Homo sapiens: one gene and its partner. The protein of the gene in region 2 purifies or fractionates together with the protein of the main gene of each other region. This does not show direct contact. Each region holds a gene or a part of one and is shown on either strand. Other genes may lie near its edges.

Region 1 (7,033 bases), on a different chromosome or scaffold from region 2:
CACTGAATTGTCCACTTTCAATGGGTGGATTGTATGGGTTGTCAATTATATCTCAATACATATGTTAAAAAATTTAAATGCCCAAATATTTTTGAACACTGCTTCTCTTTATGGTTTTACATCAAGGAGTTTGCAGTTTTGCAAATGGAAATAGATATGTAAAGCTTAATGAATTCATCCAATTACTCAAGTAATTTTCAATATATTAAGAAGGTAGCTAGAAAACTTTAGAACATTGAATGCCCATCTGGTCAACACTCTAAAATAAATCCACTAAATCACAGCTCAATTTTCCTCTATAAACAGTTATTTTTTTCTGATACCAAAGATATTCATTTTATTTAAGTATTATAGTTAGAATAACCCCCACTCCAATATCTTTAATAAAATGAAAAGTCATTTTACAAACCGATTTGAGTTGGCTATTTTCATCTTTCAACTTCACAACATGCTTGATTTTTTGTTTCAAATTCTGATGACCCAATAATTTAGCATATGAATCTCTTATTTTATTTAGCTGTTCCTGAGCTGCACCATGTTCATTCAACAATGCCTGTTTTTCTACTTCAAAAGCATCTAGTTGTAGCTGAAAAAGATTTTTTAAATAAAGTTAAGACTTAAAACAGTTTGATCTTACTAGTTTCATATAAACCATAAACACTAAAGAAAATTAAAAACACAAATGAAAACAAGGTATGTTCACATATTCTCAGGGCTCTCCATAGATTCTCTATGAGAATCTTTTAAACTTTGTATTTTTCATTTTAAAGATCATTAAAACAGAGGAAAAGAAACAAGGTAAAAAAGCCAGCTGGCCAGTTTTATCTGTATCAGTTAGATTACCACATTATAACCAATACTGTACTTCTAAGTTCCAAAATCAGCATTTATTCTTTTTTCTTTTAAAAGATCAGTATATTGAGAAACAATGAGTATTTGCAATAAGTCATACCACAAATTAAAATAGGTTAATTATCAAAAGCTCATACCAGGCAAGCCCTCTGAGCCAAACTTTTAAGTTCCACATTACAAAGTTTTTTTTTAAACCACAAAGGGTCCATTGAAAAAATTATGTCAATTAAATTTGTCAATTATACTTCAATAATGTGGGAAAAAATTATGCATAATTTAATAAAATGTATAAACCTTTAATAGTGAGCTAAATTGGCACTGTAAGTGCAGAGCAAAATGATCTTGCAGAAAACCCGAGTCACTGTCCTCACTATAATAGGGAACAAAGTGAGTCCCTAAAATAAACACAAGTAAGTTTACTCCTAACTGACAAACCTGAAAAGGTTTTGTTTTATTATATAGTTCTTCATAGAGGAGACGCCACTTGTTAATTTCTTCAGTTAATTCTGCTGTTGTATTTTCTTTTTCAGCTTTTCTGCATGGAAGAATTAAATTGAGAAAAACATAGTTATTTAAAAAATCACATCGTAACTGAGTTAACAAGGCACTCAGGTTCTAATCATAGATTACCTTCCTTCTTCATCTTCCAGCTGTTTTCTAAAGTCTTCCTCCTGTTGCTTGAGTTGGTTCTGCAAATCAGTTATTTTTTGAAGAAAAGAAACTGTGATTTCTTTAATTTCTGTTTCCTTTAGTGCTGACTTGGTCTGCAGATCTAGAAGCATCCTTTGGTTTGAGAGAGAAGAGGTCACTAAACATTTTATAGCCACTTTCATTAATTTTTCCTTTTTTTTTCTTTAAACCTCAAGGAACTCTTCAAGAAGTGTCATTTTTTAACTGAGTAAATTCTTAATTTGCAGTATAAGATGGCCAAAAGCAAGCCAAGGGACAGTTACTAGCTGGCTTTCAACATTAAATTGTCTTAATGGTTCTAAGGCCATTATTTGCTCTATATACCTTACATATTCTTGATTTGAGCTCTCAGTTGCCAAAATCTGATGCTGAACATCCTCTGCATTTTTCCCAGCCTTGGCCGCTTTTTCCTGTAATGATGAGTTCTCCAGCTTAAGATCTTCTATCTCACTGGCTGTTAACGCTTTATAGCTTATTAAAAAGAAAAAAAAGTCAAAGTAGTTTTCTAACTATTGCGTATGACAATCATAACTGATTAGTTTACACTTTATATACTTCTAAGTAAAACTAAAAAGTTTTTAATGTATTCATGCATTTAACACAGGTAAGAATTCAGTGTTCTGAGGCAAGTACTAATGAGTTTACATGGCATCTGCTGTGTATTCAAAGAAAAAAAAATCAAGTGCCTACTAGGTGCAGGAAGTATGCATACAGAGATGGAAAAGAAATCAACTACCAAGCATGAAAATTACTCACAATTTAAAAAATAAGAAGTGAGACTAGAGCCTAATGAGTAAGAAAGGCTGGAGCAGAAGCTGGTGGCATGAGGGTCATCACCGCAGGGCACAGTGGGCTTACCTGGCGGACAGACGGGAACCATTAAAGGTGTCCAAGTAGGCTGGGCGTGGTGGCTCATGCCTGTAATCCCAGCACTCTGGGAGGCCGAGACGGGTGGATCACCTGAGGTCAGGAGTTCGAGACCAGCATGACCAACATGGTGAAACCCCATCACTACTAAAAACACAAAAAATTAGCCAAGCGTGGTGGTGGACACCTGTAATCTCAGCTACTCGGGAGGCTGAGGCAGGAGAATCACTTGAACCTGGGAGGGGGAGGTTGCAGTGACCTGAGATAGTGCCATTGCACTCCAGCCTGGGCAACAAGAGCGAAACTCCGACTCAAAATAAACAAATAAATAAAATAAAAAGGTGTTTAATTAAATGTGTAGCTCACTCTAGAGCTATGAGGAAGATGGATTAGGGCAGGGGAAAAGAATGGAAAATTGAAGGATCAACTCCAAAACAATTATTTATCAGCCCAGGTGAGTGATAAAGGAGGCTTAGACTAAGGAGCTGGCAATGGAAAGACACAAGATCTCTTTTGGAAGCAGAGTAGGAAAATTCAAGAGATAGACTGAATATTGGGGGTAAGGAAGAGAGAATGATGAAGGATGACTCTAAGATTTACAGAATGAAAAGCTGGGAAGATGATGTCACTGATTACAATAAAAACAATGAGAGACTAGGGGTAGAAAGCAATGGAAGGATCAAGAGTTGGTTTGGACAGGTTAATATTAAAAGACAGTGTGATATCTACTTGAAGATGTCAAGTGGGTAACTGGATATGTGAATATGGAGCTGTAAAGAAAGGTCTGGTTTGATGAAATAAATTTTAATGCCACGAGTATATGGATAGTGACTAAAATCACAGAATAGATAAAAACCCCCTGAAGCACTATTCTTCAAACTAACGAGAAGGGAAATTCCTTTACAGGATTGATATTAGCAATAAATATATATATATAAAATTTACATATATTTATATGATTTATATGTTCTGATACAATAAAAATTATAAATAAAACATATACACTTATAAATTATTTATCTATGTGTCTGTCATAATGTATCACATGTGGGAACAGATCACTGGGGAAACAAGGTACAATTTAATGAATTAAATTAAACTAGGCAGTTGGTTGTCCATAGGGAAAACAAAAAATGAATTTGATCCCTATATTGCTACACACACAGAAATCAGTTCTAGGTGGAAAAATGGAAAGTGAAATTTTAAGACTTTTAGAAGAAAACTGGTTGAATATCTTTACACCTTGAGATAGAAAGAAGTTCTTAAATGAGAAGCAAAAGTACCCACATACAGATAAATATTTTAACCATATTGAAATCAAGAATTTCCACTCATCAGAAGAAACCAAAAAGAAAATAAAAAAATAAGCTAAACTGGCAGAAGATACCTGTAACCCATATGGCTGATAAAGAAAACCTCTACAAATCAATGAGGAAAAGATGATAACCCTATAGACAAATAAACAAAAGTCATAAACAAGCATTTTATGGAAAAGGAAAGATGAATTATCCACAATAAGAAGCCATTTTACACTAAGTACACTGGCAAAGTTTAAGAAGTCTAACAAGCTTTGGCAAAGAAGATAAATGGAAACTTATACAACACTAGTGGGAGTGTAGATTCTTACTCCCACATTGGAAAGTGATTTGATATTAAGTTTTAGAGTTGAACATTCATATACCTTTGGCTTTAGAGAAATTCTTACATACATGTATTCTTATAGTCACAAAATAACTAATAATAACTAACCAAATGGGAAACAACTCAAAGTCCAAAGAATGAATAAATAAGTTGTGGTATATTCATACAATAAAATACTCATAGCAGTGACTATCAACAAACCATAGCCTCAGACAACACAATTCAATCCTGAAAACACACATAATGCAGAATGAAAAAATAAGTCCCAGGAAACGGCATATACTATGATGACATTTTTTGGTAAAGTTCAAGGAGAAGGAAAATTACATAATGCATTATTTGTATGGATATACGTGTCATAAAATTATAATACACAGGGGGGAAAAAGCAAGGAAATAATTAGTGTAGACTTCAGGACAGTGTTATCTGTCCCATTTTCATGGGATGGCAGAGGAACTTACATATGGATACTAAGTTGTTGAAAATCTTTTGGCTTACTGGTTGTCTTTTATAGGTTCATGCATGTCAGTTTTATCTTCAAGCTCTACAGTTTATGTACATGTTATGCATTCTTTTGTATTTATTAAATAAAAGAAAGGAAACTCTCCCCCAAAATGAGCTAAAGTAAATGTGATAAATAAAAATGTTAACATTAATATATAGGTATTCATTATATTGGCCTTTGTAATTTGTAGTTCCACCCAAAATAAACTTTTTATTTAAGGAGAAAATAAGTAGAAGGCATGGGAGGTGAGGAAGTGGATATAGAGACAATCTTCTCTGTCAAGAGAAGAAAAAGGAGGAGAAGGAAAAGGACTGAAAAGGAGTAGAATTTGGGGTTAAGAAGGGAATGACTGGTGGTGTGAGACAGCTACAAAAGGAAGTTAGGGTCAGAGAAGTATTTAAAACAACTTATGTATTTTATTTATTTTTCGTTTGTTTTTGAGACAGTCTTGCTCTGTCACCCAGGCTGGAGCGCAGTGGTGTGATCTTAGCTCAGTGCAGCCTGGAACTCCTGGGCTCAGGTGATCCTCCTGCCCTCAGCCTCCCAAGTAGCATGTGCCACAATGCCTGGCTAATTCTTAATATTTTTTTTTGTAGAAACAAGGTCTTACTCTATTGCCCAGGCTGGTCTCAAACTCCTGACCTCAAGCAATCCTCCTGCCTTGGTCTCCCAAAGCACTGGGATTACTGGTATGAGCCACAGTGGCCAGCTAATTAATATATTTTACAGACAGATGTACATTAACATGTTTTAATATTGATTGGAAAAATTCCAGTAAAAAGGTTTCAAATTATGAGAAAACAAAATGATAGAATGAGGTCACTGAAGATTAAAAGACTAGGACATTTCATCTGTAATAGGTGGGAAGATAGGATGAGTATAAATGTGGGTCTCTTTATAGGTTTAGCAAGAGATAAAAACTTCTGAATTCTTTATGAAAATGATAACATCAAGAGAGTAGGGCAGAAGCACCAAATGCTTCTAAGTACATGACTTGATCCTCCCACCTCAGCTTATGCAGTGGCTAGGACTACAGGCATATGCTGCCGCACCTGGCTCAGCACATAAAAGTTGAAGTGGATGGTGAGAAAGGGGAATTTCTATAAATTATAAAGGGGAATTATATAAATACAATAAGATTACCAGATAATGCTAAATGCCCACTTACGGTTGGTGATTATGGAATTTAAACTAGTATGAATCATCCTTTGTGTGACTGCTTTGCTCACATATTTCCTGGGGTAAACACCCCTTTCTGCACACATCATATTTAAGAGTGCAGGCTCCCAAGAAAAATACCTTTCAAATTGAGCAGTAACATCTTCAAGGCTTTGCACCATACTGTCATACTTTTCCTGCAAAAGCAGGGTGGCCTGGGTATGAGCAGCACTACTTTTCTCCAGTTCAGCCTCCTTCCTAAGAAAAAGAAATAATTGAAAGATAAAATGCCACCTACAATTACTACCCTAAGAAAGAAAATAGTATTTACCTTTGAAACTGTGAATCATATAGCTCATATCTTCACCACTGCATTACCTGCTAAATAGCTCAGATCCTAATTTATGACTTACCTCGAAAGCATGTTTTTTATGCATTTTTCTACTAGCTTCAACTTATCTTTCCTGCTTATTTTACTTTAAAAATTTGGGTGAAGAAGGTAGTAGGATATAAAAGACTATAAAACCAAATCTTAAGATACTAGCCAGGACTAAAGACTGCAAAAGATTACCAGTCAAAAAACATCTGGATTGAATAAAGTTTCATTCTCTCCATTTAGACACTTGAGAAATACCATGAACAATTAAAGCCACTTCATTTTAAACTACAGAGTTACAAGACTTTGTGGATTTATTCTGATTATATGAATAACCCACATAATACTCTATTACTGAAAGACTTAATAACTTCTTTAATGGATTATTTTGCATAGACAGAATGGGTTTTAAGTCATTTTTATATACATATGCTATTAAATCTCAGGGATATTTTGGAAATAATATATTTCCAAAGTGGTGATAAAATTTTTAGATATGCATATGAGCTTATGAGAGATCTTTTAAAGAATATACAGAACTAAAAATTGTAAATAAGCATTGTGTACTTATAGACTAAGTTGGACACTGAGATAAGAAAAATAGCTGATCAAATTCATTCTGTAACAAGTGCCGGATTTCAAAAATATACACACCACAGCAAGAGCAATCAAATATGACTAAAGAGTTTATAATAAAAATATTTTCTTCCCTGTCCCCTAGAGGAATTATTTTCAATTCTTAGTTTGTTTTTCTCTTAAGCTTGAAATTTCCAGGCTAGAAGGGATCTTAGAGACCATCTAATAAAACTCTTTTATATCTAATGAAGTAGAAGATCAAAGAAACTAAGATTGTTTTGCTCAGAATCAACCAGCTAGCTAACAGAATTAGTAATAAAAATCCTTATCTCTTGACCATTGGACCACAGTTTTTTGAGTTGGAATAA
Region 2 (5,795 bases):
AGGAGTTGTATGGCAATCAATCTTAGATATCAACCAAATTTTGGGAGATCAGGGATTCTCTGCAGGGGAGAAGCTCCCTAACCTCAGCACATTATCCTATTGGTTTGGGCAATAAAGATAGCCCAGGTTGGTATCAAGCAATAATGAGATTTATCAAAGGTCAGGACCACCTTTGTAATCTCCTTCTCTGTGTTTTTTTTTTTTTTTTTTTTTTTTTTGAGACGGAGTCTCACTGTCTCTCCCGGGCTGCAGTGCAGTGGCACGACCTTGGCTCACTGCAAGCTCCACCTCCCAGGTTCACACCATTCTCCTGCCTCAGCCTCCCAAGTAGCTGGGACTACAGGCACCCGCCACCATGCCCAGCTAATTTTTTGTATTTTTTGTAGAGACGGGGTTTCACCGTGTTAGCCAGGATGGTCTTGATCTCCTGACCTTGTGATCCATCCATCTCAGCCTCCGAAAGTGCTGGGATTACAGGCGTGAACCACCGCGCCCAGCCCTCTGTCTTTTTTTTTTTTTAAATCTTTATTGGTATAGTCTGTTTTGTCAGAAACTAGGAGTGCAACACCTGCTTTTTTCTGTTTTCCATTTCCTTGAAATATTTTTCTCCATTCCTTTATTTTGAGCCTATGTATGGCACTGCATGTGAGATGGGTTTCTTGAAGACGGCATACTCCAATGGGTCTTGGTTCTTTATCCAGCTTGCCCCCTGTGTCTTTCAATTGGAGCATTTAGCCCATTTCCATTTAAGGTTAGTAATGGTATGTGTGGATTTGATCCTGTCATCATGCTGTCAGCTGGCTCTTTTGCAGACTTATGTATGTGGTTGGTTTTTAGCATCACTTGTCTGTGTACTTCAGTGTGTTTTTGTAGTGGCTGGTGGTGGTCTTTTCTTTCCATATTTAGTGCTTCCTTCAGGAGCTCTTGTAAGGTAGGTCTGGTGATAACGAATTCCCTCAGCATTTGCTTGTCTGAAAACGATCTTGTTTCTCCTTCACTTATGATGCTTAATTTTGCTGGACATGAAATTCTGGGTTGAAATTTCTTTTCTTTGAAATGTTGAATGTCTTTTCTGGCTTGTACAGTTTCAGTTGAGAGGTCTGCTAAGTCTGATGGAATTCCCTTTGCAGGTGATGTTGCCTTTCTCCCTAGCTGCCTTTAACATTTTTTCTTTTATTTTGACCTCAGAGAATCTGATGATTATGTGTCTTGGGGATGATCTTCTCATGGCATATCTTACTGAGGTTCTCTGGATTTCCTGAAGTTGAATGTTGGCCTGTCTGGCTAGGTTGGGGACATTCTCATGAATGATATTCTGAAATGTGTTTTCCAAGTTGGTTCCATTCTCCTCATCTCTTTCAGGTACATTAATCAGTCATAGATTTGGTCGTTTATATAATCCCATATTTCTCGGATGTTTTGTTCATTCCCTTTCATTCTTTTTTCCCCCATTCTTGTTTGCCTGTTTTATTTCAGAAAGCCAGTTTTCAAGCTCTGGGATTCTTTCCTCTTCTTGGTCTATTCTGTTAGATGGTCTTGCACATGAGATGGAGCTGGTCTGACCTCAGCCCTCCCTAGTCTGCTTGCCTCTCCCAGGACCCCAGCCTGGCCACACCTGCTTACAGGGCACTCTCAGGTGCCCACACATACTACAATAATATTCATAATGCAATCACACACAATCACCATGTGACTACATTATGAAAATTCTTCTAGTGTGATTTACAGCTCTGTCAGGTCAGTTATTTTCTTCTTTATACTCACTATTTTGTCTGTTAGTTCCTGCAATGTTTTACAATGATTTTTAGCTTCCTTGTATTGGATTACAACATACTTCTTTCACTCAATGAACTTTGTTCCTACCCATATCCTGAACTCTGCTTGTATCATTTCAGACATCTCAGCCTCAGCCCAGTTCTGAACACTTGCTGGAGAGTTGATGCAGTCATTTGGAGAAAAGAAGGTATGCTGAATTTTTGAGTTTTCAGTGTTCTTGCACAGAGTCTTTTTCTCATCTTTATGGGCTTATCCATCTTCAATCTTTGAGGTTGCTGACCTTTGGACAGGGTATTTTTCCTTTATTATATCTGATGACCTTGAGGATTTGATTGTGGTGTAAGGTGGATTCAGCCAACAGGTTTTGTTTTTGGAGGATTTTAAGGGGCCAACATGCAGCTCCCAATTCTTGGACTGTGTGCTTTAACTCTGGGGAACTTGTATTGGGCCACAACTTTGTCCTCTGGCTCCTCGAGGTTTGGAGTCCACTGCACTGAGGGGACCAAAGTGCAGCAGCTGTGGCAGAATGCTAGCAGATGCAAAAGTCCCTGCCTCCCTGTGGGCATTCACCCAGTGGTGGAGGCAAAACAGCTGGGGTGTGGGCCACGGGCCCCTGCTGACTGTGTGTGCTGTTGCACTGGAGGTAGTGCTGGTTTGGGGTGGGTGGCTGGCCAGTGAAGGTGCCTTCTCTGATCCCCCCCAAGCAACAGTGGTCACTCAGGGTATAAGAAGGTCCCTTTTCCTCTGCACAGCATTACCTCAAGGGTGAGATGCTAGCAGGGGTGGGGTTTTTGGTTCTGTGCCCACCATGGCTTCATCTTCAGTGGCAGTTGGTGTGGGTTGGGGTGTGTGCTGCATTCCCATATGCTGTTAGGGCAAGTACAACAAAACCCACCTGTGTAAACACACACAGCAAAGTGATGTAGGAAGTTTCCATATAAAGGGCTGCAGTATGGAATGGTAATGTGCAGGCTAGTGCGTGGCTGTAGAGGTCACCTTGCTGCAGCTCTCCACTGATCAGGCACGGTCCGCTTGTACAGAAGCTATGGTGTGGGCACCCGAAAGTGCCCTCTAAGCAGGTGTGGCCTGGCTGGGGTCCTGGGAGAGGCAAGCAGACTAAGGGGTGCTGAGGTCAGACCAGCCCCATCTCATGTGCAAGACTGCCCAGCACAGATCAGGTCTCAGAGGAGAACTCTCTCAAAAGTGAATCCTCAGCACAGCACAACTGCTCTACACAAACGTGGCCAGACTTCTTTTTTAAGCAAGTCCCCTTTTTTACGAAGAGAACTCTTAGACCTGATCTGTGCTGGGCAATCTTGCACGTGAGATGGGGCTGGTCTGACCTCAGCACTCCTAAAGTGCTGGGATAAAGTGTCTCATAAGAGCAAGTGGAGCCTAGAGACATAGCTGTCCCTGCCCTCCAGGCTCCACATCAGCTGACTTGCTGCTCCACTACTTTCCTTGTCTCCTGGGGGCTCCACCCCAGAGAGGTGTAAGTTAGCAGTTACTTAATGTAATCACCCCAGGATGGAGGGTCTGTGTTGTGGGCCCAAGCCACGGTTCCTTGTCTGGTGATGAGCAGTAAGGGGTGTGTTGTACCTGTGGAAGATGGACTGACTTGTTCCTTGTGTCAACTGCAGCTTGTTGGAGGTGTCAATATGGCACTTAGGGTCTTTGCTCCCTTGATATTCTGAGGGTAGCAAGGGCAGTTCCACTGCAGAGGCAGTGGCAGAGAGGATTTCTGTTGCTCCTGGAAGCTCTGTCCAGGGAGTTGCTGAGTTGCTACTGGCTTGAAAGCTCAAGTGGGGGGCTGGCTGGAGACCCAGGCCAGGAAGACCTGCCCATCGAGGAGATATGGAAATGGGCACCCACATAACAGTCTGGCCACTTTTCTGTGGGGCTGCCGTGGTATGCTGGGGGTCCACTCCAGTCGCCAATTGCCTCGTATTTTCCAGTGGCTGAAGGTATCAGCAGTGAAGCCTGAGAAAAAGCAAAGACGATAGCCTGCCCTTCCCTCTGGGAGCTCTGTACCTCTGAGGTATGAACCTGTTGCCAATCTCAACACACCTGTAGGATGTGACTGGAAGCAAGTTGAGAAGTCTTGCCTAGTAAGGAGGAACAGGAATAGGGACTTGTTTAAAAAAGAAGTCTGGCCACGTTTTTGTAGAGTGGCTATGCTGTGTGGGGGGTTCACTTCAGCCCCTGGTCTCCTCAGACACTCTGAAACTCTAAGACTGAACTGGCTGAGTCATCCAAACAGCAAAGATGACAGTCTGGTCCTCCCCCTGGGAGCTCTGACTCAGGAGGCCTGAAACCTCTGTGAGCCAGAGAACAGCAGTGAAGGTGGCTGGAGACCCTGGTTGAAAGGCTCCACCCAGTGATTAGAAATGTGGTTGGGGACTGGCTTAAACAAGAATCTGGCCACGTTTTCGCAGGGTGGCTGTTCTGTGCTGAGGTACCACTTCCACCCCTGGTCAGCTTGGGCTCTCCAAAGCCCACAGGCCAGAAGGGCTAGTTGCCCAAACAACAAAGGTCATGGCCCACCCCTCTCTCTGGGAACTCTGTCCCAGGAAGGTTTCAAATCTCCATTGGCCAGGGAACACTGGTGGGTGTAGCTGGAGGCCTCAGGTGGGAGATCCTGTCCAGTGACGAGGAACAGGATCAGAGGCCTGCTTACAGAAGCATTCTGGACATGATTTGGTAAAGCAGCTGTGCTATGCCACAGGATCTCTTCTGCCCCTGGTGGGTTTGTACTCTCCAAAGCCCGCACGCTGGAATCGCTAAGTTGCCCAAACAGGAAAGATGGTGGCCTGCCTCATCTTTTCTCTCAGAATTTATCCTGTGTGATGGAGCTTAATTTTTAGGTTGTTAATTTTACTGTCAGCGTTAGAGTTGTTCAGAAAGAATCTCACTGTTATCTTTTAGGTGAGATATATGAGAATTCATTTTCTCCTGTAAATAAACCTGTTCATGTTTGTTCTCTGGAAAGAAGTCCCTTTCAGCTATCTGACTTTGATCACAATCATGTAGAGCAGTAGTCAGTCTACAATGACATGATTGAATTTCCATTTCCAGTGTTTCCTAGCTGTGTCTTACATTCTCCAGTTCAGAACTGAGCATTCTCAGTTGTCAAAATCCTAAGCTGTCCACTGTACTTAAATATTGGTTTTCGTTAATGCTTCTTCATTCAATTGCATAGCCCTTAGAAGTTTATCAGTCTTTTCTTTCACACTTTCAATTTCCTCCAAAATTTTATTTTCCCTTAGCTGGTTCTGATGTTTTGTTTCATCTAGTTCCAGTCTCCAGAAATTAGCATGGCAATTTCTTCCTGCAACATGCTGTTTTCACGCAAGAGATCTTCTTCTTTCTTATGACTAAGAGAAAGCTAAGTAAACAAAGGGAACTTTTAGTTAGCACTCAATAGAATGACATATCATGATTTCTTCTAAAATTAAAGAATGACATTTATATTTGTATAATGAAATAATTCCCATAGTGGATATTTAACTGGAAAAAAGTTGGACAAAACTTCAAATCTAAAAGAGTGTAAATTCCAAAAAGTTGAAATATTTATCTAAAGACCATGAAAAATAAATCACTAGAGGATTTTTAAGAATTTCAGAATTGGAAAAGCCTTTCTCTGAATTACAAAAAACCCAGAGGCATAAAATAGAAGATTAATACATTTGGCTACATTTTTTAAATTGGGTTTACACTCTGATATCTAACCTATAAACCACACCATCATAAGAGCCTTAGCTATGCGTATATTAGGACAGAAGCAATTCCTCAAAGTTCTTTAAGTTCCTTTTTCTGAGGAATGTTTTATCAATATACTGCTGTCCTAATATTTTTACAGTCAGTTGTAAGCATTACATTTATTCATAACTGTTAAATCTAAGCATTGTACCCTTCTACAATGTACACATCTGCGTCTAAGCATTGCACTTCTACCTACAACACTCAACTCATTTAGGATCACGATTCTTAAAAGGAGAGGTCAAAAAATATATGCAGCC

Evidence for each region.
Region 1: the proteins of POTEC (region 2) and HMMR purify together in Homo sapiens (affinity purification with mass spectrometry; 2 studies listed by BioGRID and IntAct, with this or other methods). This does not show direct contact.

Annotation. Positions count from the first base shown.
Region 1 is NC_000005.10:163,477,622-163,484,654, reverse strand, and holds part of HMMR (hyaluronan mediated motility receptor), read right to left. Parts: intron 5,972-7,033; coding exon 5,855-5,971; intron 2,052-5,854; exon of another isoform or gene 2,014-2,051; coding exon 1,867-2,013; exon of another isoform or gene 1,636-1,866; coding exon 1,483-1,635; exon of another isoform or gene 1,388-1,482; coding exon 1,288-1,387; intron 587-1,287; coding exon 410-586; intron 1-409. UniProt on the Homo sapiens protein: Receptor for hyaluronic acid (HA). Involved in cell motility. When hyaluronan binds to HMMR, the phosphorylation of a number of proteins, including PTK2/FAK1 occurs.
Region 2 is NC_000018.10:14,506,833-14,512,627, forward strand, and holds the end of POTEC (POTE ankyrin domain family member C), read right to left. Parts: intron 5,162-5,795; coding exon 5,066-5,161; 3' UTR 507-5,065; downstream 1-506.